2 separate regions of the Homo sapiens genome follow, and region 1 is linked to region 2. The links come from fine-mapping of genetic effects on gene expression. A gene starts in region 2. The other region holds a variant in brackets. All regions are shown on one strand. Distances are between the middles of the regions.

Region 1 (5,379 bases), 120 kb before region 2:
TTTAGTAGAGACGGGGTTTCTCCATGTTGGTCAGGCTGGTCTGGAACTCCCGACCTCAGGTGATCCACCCGCCTCAGCCTCCGAAAGTGCTGGGATTATAGGCATAAGCCACCATGCCTGGCCTTAAGAGGGAAGTTTATAACAACAAACACCTATATCAAAAAAGTGGAAAGACTTCAAATAACCTGAAGATGCACCTCAAGAAACTAGAAAAGCAAGAACAAACCAAACCCAAAATTGATACAAGGAAAGAAATAATAAAGATTAGAGCAGGCCGGGCGCAGTGGCTCACACCTATAATCCCAGCACTTTGGGAGGCCAAGGCAGGCGGATCACAAGGTCAGGAGATTGAGACCATCCTGGTTAACACAGTGAAACCCTGTCTCTACTAAAAATACAAAAAATTAGCTGGGCGTGGTGGCATGCACCTGTAATCCCAGCTACTTGGGAGGCTGAGGCAGCAGAATCACTTGAACTTGGGAGGTGGAGGTTGCAGTGAGCCGAGATCACGCCACTGCTCTCCAGCCTGGGTGACAGAGCAAGACTCTGTCTCAAAACAAAACAAACAAACAAAAAAGATTAGAGCAGAAATAAATGAAATTGAGATTAAAAGAACAATATAGAAGATCAATGAAACAAAAAGTTGGGTTTTTTTTTAAGATAAACAAAATCAACAAATCTTTAGCTGGACAAACTAAGAAAAAAAGAGAGAAGACCCAAATAAATAAATCAGAAATGAAAAAGGAGACATAACAACTGAGATCTCAGAAATACAAAGAATCATTAGAGACTATTATGAATAACCATATGCCAACAAATAGGAAAACCTAGAAGAAATGGATAAATTTCTAGAAACATACAACCTACCAAGATTGAACCATGAAGAAATAGAAAACTTCAACAAACGAATAATGAATCATATGATCAAAGCCATAATAAAAAGTCTTCCATCAAAGAAAAGATCAGAACCTGCTGGATTCACTCCTGAAGTCCACCAAATATTTAAAGAAGGAATACCAATCTTACTCAAACTCTTCAAAAAAAATAAAGAGGAGGGAATACTAACAAACTCATTAAATGAGGCCAGCATTACCCAGATGCCAAAACCAGGCAAGACTATAAAAAGATCATTCACCATGATCAAGTGAGATTTGTCCCAGGAATACAAGGATGGCTCAACATATGCAAATCAATAAACATGATACACCACATTAATAGAATGAAGGACAAAAACCATATGATCATCTTATTACATACAGAAAAAGCATCTGACAAAATTCAAATCCTTTCATGATAAAAACTCTCAAAAGATTAGGTTTAGGAGGAATGTACCTCAATACAATAAAGGCCATATATGACAAGCCCACAGCTAACATTATACTCAATGGAGAAAAGTTGGAAGCTTTTTCTCAAAGATCAAGAACAAGACAAGGATGCCCACGCTCACCACTTCTATTTCATATATACTGGAAATCTTTGCCAGAGCAATTAGGCAAGAGAAAGAAATAAAAGGCATCCAAATAGGAAAGGAAACTGAAATTGTGTCTACTTGTTGACATGATCTTATATATAGAAATCCCTAAAAACTGTTAGAACTAAGAAGCAAATATAGTAAAGTTGAAGGATACAAAATCAACACACCAAAATCAACACACCAAAATCAGTAGTGCTTCTATACACCAATAACACATTATCCAAAAAAGAAATAAAGAAAATAATACCATTTACAATAACTTCAAAAGAAATAAACTACTCAGGAATAAATTTAACCAAAGAGGTGAAAGATCCGTATACTTAAAACTACAAAACTTTGATGAAATAAATTGAAGAAAATACGATAAATGAAAAGATATTAATGTTCATGAATCGAAAGAATTAATATTGCTAAAATGCCCATACCACCCAAAGCAATCTATAGGTTCAGTGCAATACCTATCAAAATTCCAATGTCATTTTTCGTAGAAATAGAAAAAACAGTCCTAAAATTCATGTGGAACTACAAAACCCCCAAATAGCCAAGGCAATATTCAGCAGAAAGAACAAAGCTGGAGGCCTCATACTACCTGATTTCAAACTATATTACAGGTTGGGCACGGTGGCTCAGGCTTGTAATCCCAGCACTGTGGGAGGCTGAGGGGGGCAGATTGCTTGGGCCCAGGAGTTTGAGACCAGCTTGTACCCAGGAGTTCAAGACCAACATTGCAAAACCCTATCTCTACAAAAAAGTAAAAAATTAGCTGGGCATAGTAATCTCAGCTACTTGGGAGGCTGAGGCAAGAGGATTGCTTGAGCCCAGGTGGTAGAGGTTGCAGTGAGCCATGATTGTGCCACTGCACTCCAGCCTGGGTAACAGAACAAGACCCTGTCTAAAAA[A/AAT]ATATATATGTGTGTGTGTGTGTGTGTGTGTGTGTGTGTGTGTGTGTGTGTATAACAGAACTACAGTAATTAAAACAACATGGGACTGGCATTAAAACAGACACATTGACAAAATGAAACAGCATAGAGAGCTTAAAAACAAACCCACACATTTAAAATTGATTTTTCTTTTTCTGCTGCCCAGGCTGGAGAGCAGTGGCAATCACAGCTCACTGCAGCCTCAACTTCCTGGGCTCAAGCAATCCTCCCACCTCAGCCTTCCAAGTAGCTGGAACCATAGGTGCACGCCATCACACTCAGCTAATTCTTTAAATTTTTTGTAGCGATGGGGTCTTGTCATGTTGCCCAGGCTGGTCTCAAACTCCTGGGCTTAAGCAATGCTTCTGCCTTGGCCTCCCAAAATGCTGGGATTATAGGTGTCAGACACCACACCTGGCCTACAGTCAGTTAATTTTTTGACAAAGGATGAAAATGACATTGAGAAAAGGACAGTCCCTTCAACAAAACGGTATTGAGAAAACTGGATATCTATGTGCAGAAGAATGAAAGTGGACCGTTACCTAACACCACATTAAAAAATCAACTCCAAATGGATTAAAGACTTAAAGACAAGACCTGAAATTGTAAAACTACTAGAAGAACACTACATAGGGGAAAAACTACATGATATTGACCTGGACAACAATTTTTCCAATGTGACACGAAAAGCTCAGGGAACAAAAACAAACATATACAAATGGGATGGGATTATATCAAACTAAAAAGCTTCTGCACAGCAAAAGAAACAATTAACAGAGTGAAGAGGCAACCTATGGATTGGGAGAAAATATCTGTAAGCTACACATCTGATAAGGGATTAATATCCAAAATATATAAGGATCTCAACTCAATAGCAAGAACACAACCCAATTAAAAAGTAGGCAAAGGGCCTGAATAGACATTTCTCAAAAAAAGACATACAAATGGACAACAGATATATGAAAAAAAAAAAGCTCAACATCATGAATCGTTATGGAAATGCACATTAAAACCACAATGGGATATCACCTCACACCTGTCAAAATGACTGTTATCAAAAAGATGAAAGATAAGGGCCAGGCATGGTAGCCCAAACCTGTAATCCCAGCAGTTTGGGAGGCTGAGGTGGAAAGATTGCTTGAGGTCAGGAGTTCCAGACCAGCCTGGGCAACACAGCAAGACCCTGTATCTACAAAAAAAAATTTTTTTTGTTTTAATTAGTTGGGTGTGGTGGTGTGCACCTGTGGTTGTAGCTTCTCAGGAGGCTGAGGTGTGAGGATTCCTTAAGCCCAGGAGGTCAAGGCTGCAGTGAACTATGTTCATGCTACTGCACTCCAGCCTGGGTGACAGAGCAACACCCTATCTCAACAAACCAAAAATATGAAAGATAATGTGTTGGCAAGGATGTGGAGAAAAGGGAAACCTTGTACACTGTTGTTTGGAATATAAATTAGTACAGCAATTATGGAAAACTGTGGAGTTTCCCCAACAAAGTGAAAATAGAACTACCATATGATCCAGCAATCTTACTTCTGGGTATACATCCAAAGGATTTGAAGTCAGTATGTGATATACACTATGGTGTGTGAAAATGTGGTATATATATATGATACAATACTATTTAACCTTAAAAAGGAGGGAAATTCTGTCATTGGCAACAACATTGGTGAACCTGGAGGATATTATGCTAAGTGAAAAAAGCCTGGCACAGAAAAACAAATACCACATCTTCTCACTTAAATGTGGAATCTAAAACAATTGAACACATGTAAGCATAGAGCAAAATGCTGGTTACCAGAGGCTGAGGGGTGAGGAGGCAATGGGGAGATGTTGGCCAAAGGTGCAATGTTTCAGTTAGACCGGAGGAGTAAGTATTTGAGGTGATGGATATGTTAATTACCTCAATTCAATCATTCCATATTATATATCATAGCATCACTTTGTACACCGTAAGTATAGGCACTTATAATTTGTCAATATTCAATAGTATAAATAAAAATTTGAAAAAACTTTCTGACCATCACAATATCCAAGAGAAATAAAAATATATGTCCTACCAGAAACTTGTAGATAAATATTCATAGCAGCATTATTCATAATAACTAAAAAGTGAAAACAACCCACTCTCCATCCCCTGATGAATGGATAAACAAAATGTGTTTTATCCAAACACTGGAATATTATTCAGCCATAAAAGACATAAACTATTGATACTTACTCTAACATAATGAAGCTTGAAAACATGATAATATTTTAAAGAAGGCAGACATAAAAGGCCACATATTGTATGATTCTATTTATATGAAACATCCAGAATAAGGAAATCCATAAAGACAGAAAGTATATTAGTGATTGCCAAGGATTTGGGGGAGGAATAAATGGGGAGTAGACTGCTCCTGGGTATGGGCTTTTTTGGGGGGTGATGAAAATATTCTGGAATTAGACAGTGGTGATGGTTGCATAAGTGTGTGAGTACATTAGAAAGCACTGAATTGAACCCGTTAAAAGGGAAAACTTTATAGTATGTGAATTACTTCTCAACAAAGCAGTTATTTTAAAAATAAAATTTTCTGCAATATCTCCAAAATTTATATAACAAAAGAAGCAAGGTGAAGATAGTATGTATAGTACCATGTGTGTAAAACTAGATAGACAGATATAGATAGATCGTCTATAGATAAATATAGATAGGTTATATATATAGAGAGAGAGAGGGCAACCAGCTTTTCATTCTGTACCCTTTTATGTTTTTCATTGTTTGTACTATGTGCAGGTATTGTATCTATTATATATATATTTTTTTCTAGGATCATATAGCTAATGGTTTATCATTATAACTTTTCACATTCATCCTTTCTTTCCTTTTAGGAAACAACAATTAGTGACATCCTTGAATCCGAAGTAGTGAATGAAATATTGCCTTTATCAAACTCCAGGTTAGTAAAGTCAAGACAAATAAAGTCAAGTCTATCTGAGATGGACTGTCAG
Region 2 (5,379 bases):
CTCCCCACACACATCTCGACATTGCAATCACAAGAGTTCATTTTTTTTCCTGAATACATCATGCTTTGGTTCTACTTTTCTCTCTATCTGGAGGAGCCTTCTTTCCTCTCCCCCTGGCAATACTTAGGGCAGGCTTCAATATTACCTCTTCTTTGAAGTCTAATTTCTCTGAGATAAAGCTAGAGTCTCCCTCCTTTGTGCTCCCGCAGCCCTAAGTATATGCCCTTGCAGTAGCCCTTACTACAGTAACTCTTAACAGCAAAGCAAGACAAAGCAAAGACGTTAGTCGAGCATTTAATTACTTGTACAAGAACTGGAATGCAGTAGGTATGCAATACATGTTTGTCAAATAGTTTTAGAAAGTGCTATGATGAAGCGACATAACCAAAGACATAACGCAATTATTTTGATTTCAAGTCCAGCGCTCTTCCGAGTAACTAGGAAAAATGAGGGGAACTGTGTAGGCAGAATGCTGTGGAGGGGTGGAAATCTGAGGTCCCCAAGAGTCTCTAAGTGTCTCTTTAGATCGAATCGAAGGTCTTTTAAACAACAGATATACCAGATATAATGCACAACTCTTTCTCCCCCCACCCCCAATACAGTGGGACTAATAACAGCATCTACCTGACAAGATATTATGAAGATTAGGGCAAATGCGTTAATAAATGCAAACTGCTTAAAATAGTGCCTGGAAGTATGTGCTGGCTATCATCATCATCATCATCGTCACCATCACCACCACCAAACAAGCCTGGAACGCTCCAAGCCCAAGTGTACACTTGGACACATGGCACTCTGGCATTCCGAAAAATACTCATTTTCTTTGTAAACCTGGCAGACTAGCCAGAGGGTCCCCCCCCCGCCCCCACACACACACAGAAAGGGCCAGGCAGCCCCTGCTGGCGACGTGGCAACCTCACATCCTGAAAGAGAGCTGCTGAATCAAACAGCAGGAAAAGCACCACTGGAAAACCAACCGGAAGGGAGATATTGTAGACCGCTACTAGCTTCTCACTCGGACACTTACAATGACATCAGAATGGGAGACCCAAACTGCCGCTTTAATTCCTTCCAGGAGATTTCCCAGGGAACAAAATGGCCATGAGTTTTGCTTGGCCTGTGCCCTAACCCCAGGCTGGACCTTTGGGGTTAGCATCTGCCCATGCGAACTGGGCGAGGAAGGTCTCCTGCCAGGGAGCAGCTCTCCCCGGCTCCGAGGAGAGCTCCCCAGCCAGGAGGCCACTTTCCCCTCCCTGCGGACACTTCCCCGATCCCCCAAGCTCCTCAGGTCCCCTGCAACACTCCTCTCCCCAGAAGGACCCCGGCCGCCTGGTTCCAGGCAGGTCTGCACCTTGAAGTAGGCGACCTGCAGGTAGTTGTAGGGGCTCCGCTTGCGGAACTCCAGCTCCATCTCTTCGCTGAGCGAGTGGGCGGCCGGCGGCCCGAGGCAGCGGCGCAGGCAGGCAGCGCGACGCAGAAGGCCCCCGAAGAAGCTCAGGTCGCGCAGGGCGGCGGCGCCCGAGGCCTGGGCCGGGCTGGGGGACCAGTCGGGGTCCAGCTCCCACGGGAAGTCGGCGGCACACTGGGTGCGGCAGCGCAGGCGAAGGGCGCGGAGGGCTGCCCGGGAGCGCAGCGCCCGTTCCATGCTCAGGACCACCCCGGGCCAGTCCCCGCGCGCGTAGGCTGCGGTCCCCTCGGCGAAGAGCAGATCAGGCGTCACCATGCCCCATCCTGCCTCGGACTCGACCTCGGCTTGGGAGGCAGCGGCCACGACAGCCAGCAGTGTGGTCAGCAGCTTCAACGCGCGTACCGCCATCGCTCCCTCAGACCTAACGGAACCGCCAGCCACCCGCCACCAAGGCCGGAGTCCTACCCCCGGCGAAGGCCCGCCCCCGGGCGAAGCCCCACCTTCCAAGCCGGGCGGCGCATGCCCACGAGGCTTGCACCGCCTCTTTTCCTTTCAGTCAGCCCGGATCCCCCCACCGGCCCTCAGCGAATCCCGGCGCGTCAGCCGGAGCCCCGCCTCCGAGCTCAGGCCTTGCTCAGTCGAACTGACGCCCAGTAGACAAGAAAGACGGAAGCTCCGCCCACGCGCCTTTATGCGCAGGCTCTTCCTACTCGCACAGCCCAGGGAGTGGGGAGGATAAGGCGCTGTCATGGAGGACGCCGCCGCGCCGGGGCGGACCGAGGGGGTCCTTGAAAGGCAAGGAGCGCCGCCAGCTGCAGGCCAGGGAGGTATGCGGGGCGGGAGTCAGCAGGGGGAAGTCAGCTCCCGCGAGGCAGCCGGTCTCGGGGCTCCGCGGGAGGCCGACGGCGGGAGCTCACGGCTTGTGTTCCTGGGTGTGTGTCGCAGGAGCCCTGGTGGAGCTCACCCCGACCCCCGGCGGCCTGGCCCTGGTGAGCCCCTACCACACCCACCGGGCCGGGGACCCCTTAGACCTCGTGGCGCTCGCAGAGCAGGTGCAGAAGGTGAGGAGGCGCGGCCGGGGCAGCGAATAACCATCTTCGTTCACGTTGTACTCTGCGTCTTTCGGCTCAGACCTCACTACCACCTATGGTGGGGGTGGCATTTGCTCTTGTCTCCATTTTACAGACGAGTAAAGCCGACTGTCATTGTGAGTCGGTGGCCTGATTCGAATGACCTTCTGGGACCAAAGGTTCCTCTAACTGCAACTTGAGTGCCCATAATCTTCCTTCGTGGGAAGGTTTACACAACACTTTAGTGTTCATTATTTCATTTGCACCTTAGGACAGCCTTGTGAGGTAGGCAGTACAGAGTTATTCTTCCCATTTGACACAAAGAAAAGTTCTTCGGGAAGTTTCAAGGTCCGCTTATTTTAAGCTGCTTCCCATAAGATCTTTGTTACCTGAGAGTTTAAACATCTTCTAGCAGGGCAAGGACTCCAAGTTTAGTCCTCATTAAACACAGTATTCCCAAGCCCAGTGTTTATATATGGATGGCCAAAATAAGTCAAATAAGGAGGAAATGTGAAATAATGGAAAAAACACTGGAAGTTTGGACACATGAGTATTAATCCCACTTTTGATACTAACTTGCAGTGCGACTTAAGGCAGATTACTTCTCTCTGGACCTCAACTATTTTATCTGTGAAGTGAAAGGTTTGAAGTAGTAGAGCTCCAAGATCTAAAGTTTTGTCATTATTCAATGAAAAACCAGATTCCTTCTTATCTCTTATCAAGACTTCCAGTTGTACACCCTCTTCAGTGTCCACAGATGGAGGGTCCTGCTGTTTTAAAGATTATCATGGCCCCTTATCCCTGTATACACTATCAGATTTGGCCTTGATTATGTTCCAGGGTCTTTGCTTTGCCCAAAATTATTTAATGTGCTCAAATTCCCTCACATCTCTTTTTTTTTCAATGATCCTAGAAATCCTTCGAATCCTTTTTTTTTTAAAATTAAGAAAAATTCAGATACGCAGAAAGCTCCTTTAATTCAAAACTTGGCTTTCTTCTTTTTGAAGAGCTGGGGAGCAAAGTGCAACTTTTATTTATTAAGAGAATATGCATCTAGTTAATCAGATTACTCTTATTGGGAGGGAGGTTGGCAGGGACAGAATCTTGTGCACACAACGTATTCATGTGCTATTGAATGACTATCGTGTTTATTACGATGGCCTGAACAGATGGAAGAAAGAACACAGTTTTTGTCTTTCATCCTATAATCTTATGAAATACAGAGGATGCATTATTATGCTGCCTCTGTTTCCCCAATACAATCTGTATTTGAGAAGCTGAAGAAAAAAAAAACTTTAGAGACAAACAAATTGAATCAAACATATTAACTATCTAAAATGTACTTTTTGGCCAGGTGCCGTGGCTCACACTTGTAATCCCAGCACTTTGGGAGGCCAAGGTGGGTGGATCATTTGAAGTCAGGAGTTCGAGACCAGTCTGGCCAACATGGTGAAACCCCGTCTCTACTAAAAGGTGTGGTGACTCATGCCTGTAGTCTCAGCTACTCGGGAGGCTGAGGCATGAGAATCGCTTGAGCCCAGGAGACAGAGGTTGCAGTGAGCCGAGATCGCACCACTGTACTCCAGAATTGGTGACAGAGTGAGACTCTTAAAAAAAAACAAAAAAATGAGGCTGGGTGTGGTGGCTCACGCCTGTAATCTTAGCACTTTGGGAGGCTAAGGCGGGAGGATTGCCTGAGCTCAGGAGTTGGAGACCAACCTGGGCGACATGTGAAACCCTGTCTCTACTAAAATACAAAAAATTAGCCGGGCATGGTGGTGTGTGCCTGTAGTCCGAAGCTACTCTGGAGGCTGAGGCGGGAGAACTGCTTGAACCTGGGAGGCAGAGGTTGCAGTGAGCTGAGATCACACCACTGCACTCCAGCCTGGGTGACAGAGCAAGTCTAAAAAGAAAAAAAAATGGTGGTGGGCTGGGTGCAGTGGCTCACGCTTGTAATCCGAGCACTTTGGGAGGCCAAGGCGGGTGGATCACGAGATCAGGAATTCAAGACCAGCCTGGCCAACATAGTGAAACCCTGTCTCTACTAAAAATACAAAAAATTAGCCGGGCATGGTGGCAGACGCCCGTAATTCCAGCTACTCATGAGGCTGAGGCCGGAGAATCACTTGAACCTGGGAGGCAGATGTTGCAGTGAGTGGAGATTGTGCCACTTCACTCCAGCCTGGGTGACAAAGTAAGACTCCGTCTCAAAAAAAAAAGTACTTTTTTAGCAAGACTGACCCAGGTATTGGTGTGTGTTCAGAAAGCTCAGGAGGCCTGGTATTAAGGCATGAATTTTGGAATCTGACCTGTGTTCAGATCCTTTGCTGTTTATTATCTGTGAAACCTTGGACAGGTTGCCTCATGTCTGTGAGTCTTAATTGCTAAAATGAGAAAGTGAGGTTATCATCTCCAGCGTCATAAAGGTGTTGTGAGAAGTAAATGAGATGAATGTAAAGGGCCTCAGAGTAGTTGAGGCCAGGGTTAGTGCTTAGTAGTTGTAGGTACTCTTCCCTTCCTTTCTTTTTTATGAGGCTCTTTTGTTTTTAAGTTGTTCGTGAAATATTTTGCATTTTTTTTGTTTGTTTCTTTTTTCCTTTTTTTGGACCTCAGACTAATCCATATTTTGCATTTTATATTAACTCTTCAAAATATAAATTCAAATTTTGTTTATGAGATTTATTGCTAACACCTTAAGAAAAGGGAGGGTTATTATAAGGCCACCCCTAATCTGGAACTACCTTAGCTCTAGAAATACCTACTCTCTCCTTGGCCATATATGGCTCCTCCTTTCTTTCTTTCTTTTTTTTTTTTTTGAGATGGAGTTTCGCTCTTGTTGCCCAGGCTGGAGTGCAATGGCGCCATCTTGGCTCACAGCAACCTCTGCCTACCGAGTTCAAG

Alleles and levels. Alleles are on the strand shown, and positions count from the first base shown. SD is a standard deviation of normalised expression in the study named.
In carriers of allele AAT in region 1, the expression in transverse colon of the gene that starts at base 2,094 in region 2 tends to be lower than with A alone (moderate effect, 0.67 SD a copy in CEDAR).

What was found.
Region 1: its variant is fine-mapped to the expression of C1orf50 in transverse colon (CEDAR, PIP 0.94).

What each region holds. Positions count from the first base shown.
Region 1 is chr1:42,648,117-42,653,495 of GRCh38, forward strand. It overlaps CCDC30 (coiled-coil domain containing 30), which reads left to right. Exons shown (of 21, transcript NM_001395517.1): 20 at 5,260-5,327. The region is part of intron 1 of LOC124904162 (a long non-coding RNA gene); the gene reads right to left. Among named protein-coding and RNA genes, the nearest start is that of PPIH, 7.6 kb to the right of the region's middle. The variant A/AAT (reference allele first, on the strand shown) is at 2,374.
Region 2 is chr1:42,765,156-42,770,534 of GRCh38, forward strand. C1orf50 (chromosome 1 open reading frame 50) reads left to right here and starts at 2,094. Exons shown (of 5, transcript NM_024097.4): 1 at 2,094-2,235; 2 at 2,354-2,469. The coding sequence starts at 2,157. P3H1 (prolyl 3-hydroxylase 1) reads right to left here and starts at 1,873. Exons shown (of 15, transcript NM_022356.4): 1 at 1,352-1,873. The coding sequence starts at 1,816. RefSeq lists an enhancer at 1,132-1,251 and silencers at 1,512-1,621, 2,242-2,381.